Linked DNA regions of Homo sapiens: region 2 is linked to region 1. Evidence: fine-mapped expression QTL. Tissue or cell type: tibial artery. Region 1 holds a variant in brackets; the other region holds the start of a gene. All regions are shown on one strand. Distances are between the middles of the regions.

Region 1 (2,684 bases):
GAGGACTATCAATATCAAATGTTGGAAAGGAACTTCCATACTTGGCTGGTAGAAGTATAAGATGGTACAACTACTTTGGAAAGTTGTATGGCAACTTCTTATAAAGTAAAACATACACTTACTTCACGATCCAGAAATTTCACTCCTACGTAATTACCCAAAAGAAATAAAAACATGTGTCCACAAAAGACTTATATATTAATCCTCCCAGCATCATTATTCATAAAAGCTCCAAATTTGAAATACCCCCAAAGTTCTTCAAAGGGAAAATGGATAAAGAAAGCAAGGGTAAGACCCATATAATGATATAGCAGGTAACAATAAAAAGGAATGATGACAGATACACAAAAACAACATGATAAATCCCAAAAATATTATGCTCAGCAAAAGGAACCAAGGAGAAAAAAGAGTTCATATTGTTTGATCCAACTTTTTTTTTACAAATTCAAGACCAGGCAAAATGAATCTATGAGGATGGTATTCAAAATAGTGGAGTTTTTTTTTTCTGTAGAGAAAGAGAAATTAGAGGAAAATGACATGGGGAATTTTCTCAAGTAATGAAAATGCTTTCTATCTTAATTGGACTATTGGTTACATTGGGATATACAGTTGGTAAAGCTCATTGAATGTGCATTAAGTTCTGTGCATTTTATAGTATGTAATTATACTTCAATTAAATGTAAAGGAATAATTAAAAATAAAATAATCCACTCAAGTATTATTTATAAATGCCTTCTCTGTACCAAACCTTGGGCTAAGGGCTGGGATGTGGCCCTGAATAAGATGCATCCCCTATCTCAAGAAGAATGAATGGGAAAGCACCCCTGTGATATTTCAGCATCCTAGTGACTGAGGCTTTGTGCACACACACACACACACACACACACACACACACACACACACATATCAGAAGCAGTGGAGGCTTCTCCCTTGCTACTCTGGGTCTCTGATGTATGGCAATGCATAAACATTTGGGTCAAAAGGAACCCCCTCCCCGCCCCCCCCCCAACACACACACACACAGAACTACTAACTGCCCAAAGTATCCTGAACAAAGAAGCTTCTAGAATTAGTCTTCAAGGTCAGAAGCAACCAAACTCTAGCATCATGCCCAGAGTCCTGAAGCAAGACCCCTGCCTTTCTTCCCAGGGAAGGTACAAGCTCTTCTCCTTGGGGTTTGAGCCTTGCCTGCAGTGCTAGAGAGGCCACGGGAAGAGGGAAGGGAGGGCCCTTGACCTGCTGGCCCCCAGCTCCCCACCTACCCCTCCAGGGAGAGGAGAAATCCAAACAAAAGCCCATTCTCACAGGCAGCCTTTCCAA[G/A]AAAAACCAAGTTCTAGAGATGCCGGGTCTGGTGTGAATAAGGGAAAAATGCAAAAATCCAAAAGGCAAGGTCCAAGAAACATTTCTCCCACTGAGTGTGCTATGAAAAGAAAGGGCACAAAGAGGTGGATGGGAAGGAACTCCAGGGTACCCACAGCCAGTATGGGGGTTGACCTCCAGCCACCATTAATTTTCCTGAACAGAATCTGATTTTCAGTGACCCAGGAAGTGCCCCATGACTTTCAAAATGTTAAATCCTACAAGAAGGAACCTCTTATTTCTGAGCTTTGATTACTCATTTGTCAAAAGAGAATAACAACCCCCACCCTACCCACTTCACAAGAGTGAGGTGGGGCCCCATAAGGAGGAAACAAGCTCTGAGACACCATAGGCCTTGCCTTGGCCAATGTGGAGCGTGTCTCACTGCCTGTTAGGATATTTGTATTTTATAAAGAGAGGAGCATGGGTTAGAATTCTGGCTTCACACACGCTGTGTGAATTTGGAAAAATAACTATTTCTCTGAGCCAACTTCCTCATCTGTAGAATGAGAAAGTTGATAGCTCTCTTGAAGTTTGAGCAAAGATTAGAAAAATGTCTATACAGCCTTTAGGAGAATATCTAGCATATAGAGAGCATTCAGTAAATGGGAGTTGTTATAATTCCTAACCATGAAAAAGAGATTCTACACACTCCTGCCTTTAGCCTTTAGAAAAGGGAAGTAGTAGAGCTCTTGGGTTGGCCAAATAAAAACCACACACACGGGCACATACTTTTCTGAAAGAATTTATTAGGCATCCTGGGAGCATTAAGAGCTGCTACTATACACCGAGCCCTCTTCTAGGGTGGGCACGGTGCTCAGCACTCTGGCTTGTGTTATGGCATTCACAGACACTGCAGGAGGTAGAGAGGATCCCATCTCCATTCTACAGAGCAGAGCGCTGTGACTCAGTGAGGTTACAGACATTGCTTGACTTCATACAACCAGAGAGCGGCAGAGGTAGCACACACATGTGGGACTGCCGGAGTCCAAAGCCCAGGCCCTCAGGGCTGCGGTGTGCCAACATTCTCACCATATGCAAGCTGAAAAGCTCAGAAATCCCAGCCAATCACAGGGGACATTGCACTCTCAGAAGTGGACAGAGTCTGCAGCCTGGTGACTCTTGCGTAGCAACTGCAACCACCACCTTCTCCACCAACATCCAGGAGTAATGTGTCTTTCATTCCCACCTCTCTGTCTATAGATGTCAGCAAGGTCACAGCCAGCCAAGGCAACCAAGGCCTATCTGCATATTGTCAGATAGACCAGCAGGGACCTTAGAATACTCTTGGGTGACTTGTTGAGGCTTGGAGGAAATGTTGGTGG
Region 2 (2,684 bases), 380 kb before region 1:
TCACCCCTTTCCCCCTTCTTTCTCTCCTGACGGCTGGATTAGCGGACAGTCAGGGGAGTAACAGAACTTTTCCTGTCCCCAGCCCGGAGACCCTAGGGCTCCACAGAGTTTCCACTAGTGCTGTGTGTGGGTCTCGAATTGGAAAGCAGTGCTTGCGCCCACTGCATTGCCTCCCTGCACCAGGACAATCAAGGGTTCCGCTCCAGGCCTTGACGACACAGAGCAATCATCCTATGGAGAATATCCCTAAGTTAGAGCGCGAGTGCAAGGCGGGGTTCAGACTCGCAGCCCTGCGCTCTCGGGTCTAGGCGGCCTCATACTAGAGCGCAACTCCTCAAAAGACAAACTTGAACGAAAGCGCTACCGAGCTGGGGCATGCACCTGTCCCTGGCGCGGTCGGCTGCGGCTGTGGCCATTCACTCCCTCTCCCTTCCTTCTTCGTCAACCTGGGCGTCAGCCAGAGCTAGGAGCGCGTCTCAGGAAAGTTTGTGCCCGCTGAAGTTGCTCTGGTTTCTTAAAGGGGGCCCACAGATTGACTTTCAAAGTCCGTGGGCACCTCGCCCGTGATTCCGCAGAGCCGGGCGGGCTGGCCGCAGTAGCGGAGGCCCGCCCCCCTTAATCCCCAGCGGTCAGAGGCCGAGGACCCCGCGCAGGAAGTCCTGAGGCAGCACCCCCAACCACCCTGCTCTCACTTTCACAAAAGTCCTACAGCATTCGTTTGGCAAGAGCTTCCTTCAGGGGCATTGAGAGAGAGGAGGCACCCGCCGAGCAGTGACAAGGAACCTGGGAGTCCTGCCCGCATTCGCTTTGCTGAGCCCAGGCGCCCAGGACTGCAATTACCTTGTTCCGCAGAGGTCCTGGGGCTGAGCACGTCTCTGGGGCTTTAGCTGAAGGGGACTGGGGAAGCCGGAGGCCCTGGAGCCCACAGGCGCCCCTGGAGCTCTAGTGTCCCGACTCCTCTCCTGCCGCGGGGACTCCAAGCGCCGGACACGCGGGAGCGAGCGCTCAGCAGCCCCGGATCCTGCACGCCGGGGACGGTGAGCCTCGCTCGCGGCTCCCTCGCTGGGTCTGAACCAGGAGCAGCTGAGAACGTGCCGGGGAGAGGCCGAGCTCCGACTCACTCATCCCTTAGCACCGAGCCGCCTACTTATTTTAATCCACCACCCTCCCTCCTCCACCACCCCCACCCCCGCCCCTTGCCTCAGGATTCCTCCCCTCCCTCCCCTGCCCCCCAACCCTGCCCTGCGCCTGCGCAATGAAAGACAAAGTTTTTGCTGACCCGGGCAGCAGACTTTGGCAGCTGCTCTCGCTTGGACCCGGCCTCTCCCAACCTGCGTCCCCTCCTCTTCAGTCCCGCGCGACCCCTGCTGCCTTTTTAGGTCCAGAGCGGCACGCCTGGCGCACTGGAGGAAACGGTCCCTAGCAGATGAGAGCGGGCTGGCACCGCACGTTTCGAGGTCCTATACTTGGGCTCCTAGGACACAGCCCGTGCTCTTTGGGAGGAGGGAGGGAGGGGCAGTAGCTCTGTGCACCGGGATCCCCACACCGCGGCTTGGGTTTCAACGCACTTTGGCGCCTGACAGAGTCGCATCTCCTCCCAGAATCTCTTTCCAGAGGCGGCAGACCCCGAGTGTGGAGCAGCTCCTGGCTATCCAAGCGTGCTCGGGGCCAGGGTGTTAACCCAGGCAGCGCTGGTTAATTCCTGGTGCGGGAGGGCCAGGGTCACCGAAGCAAGCGAGCTGTAACATCTGAGTGCTTATGGTTGACCCCAGACCCTAAGTTCTGGAGTCCAGTAGAAAGAACAAAGAGTAGGGAAAGGAGGTCAGGAAAGTTATTTTCCTGGGGCCCAGAACTCTCTGAGATTTCACCCCAATGCACAGTGGCACTCTCTACTTACATATTTGTTTTAGGATGGATCAGAGTTTAGAGAGCCGCACTGGCAAGCTAGACGAGCTGCAAAGTTGTCAGTTCCAGGGCCTCTGAGTCAAGGAGCTGGTTCAGGTGGAGTTTTTAATCGGAAAGGAATCAGAGTTCTGGACATTAAAAATTCTATCTTCATTGCCTAGGCATTATGGAGGGTACCATCACCCCCTTGACTACCCATCTCTGAAAGCTGACCTCCGGCTGACCCCAGCCCAATCCCTCCCTAATGCCTTTCTGGAATACCCTTCCAGGCCTTGGGTTTGGCAAGGAGGAGTCACTGGTTTCCTGGGACTTGTGTGGGTCCAGATCACACAACTGCACTCTCTGCCTTTGCCCCAGAGTTGCTGCTGAGTGACTCTTGGAGCTGGATCCTAGATTCCGTGGGTCCCTAAGTACTGTACTGCTTCTCTCCCGAGGAGCTTCTGCTATCTCCAGCTTTGGTTTGCAAAGCTAATCTGATTTTCTTGGGAGGTGAAGAAGGTTGTAATACCTGACCTAGGGAGATGGTAATGAAGACTCCCCTCCCTCAAAGGCATAGTTGAAAGAGGATTTCCTTATATCCCCAGGCCTTTAGAACAGAATCTAGCCTCTAACCCCTGGGTAACTTCGTCTTGTTTGAGGAGGAGTAAGAGGGGGTGCAATCTTTGCTCCAACGAACAGCTTTTACCCAGTGCCTCAGGTTAGTGCAGAAGTAAGAGATTCACATAAGTTTGTCCATGCTCCTGGAATCTTAGCAGTTGCTAGGATGTAGTGACATTCTT

Which allele goes with the higher level. Positions count from the first base shown, and alleles are read on the strand shown. Sizes are in standard deviations (SD) of each study's normalised expression.
In carriers of allele A in region 1, the expression in tibial artery of the gene that starts at base 1,123 in region 2 tends to be lower than with G alone (small effect, 0.35 SD a copy in GTEx).

Evidence for each region. PIP is the estimated chance that this variant, and not a neighbour inherited with it, causes the effect.
Region 2: it holds the start of OSR1, and the variant in region 1 is fine-mapped to the expression of OSR1 in tibial artery (GTEx, PIP above 0.99).

The regions. Positions count from the first base shown.
Region 1 is chr2:19,741,392-19,744,075 of GRCh38, forward strand. No RefSeq gene overlaps it. Among named protein-coding and RNA genes, the nearest start is that of LINC00954, 130 kb to the right of the region's middle. The variant G/A (reference allele first, on the strand shown) is at 1,321.
Region 2 is chr2:19,357,501-19,360,184 of GRCh38, forward strand. OSR1 (odd-skipped related transcription factor 1) reads right to left here and starts at 1,123. Exons shown (of 3, transcript NM_145260.3): 1 at 841-1,123. RefSeq lists an enhancer at 467-995.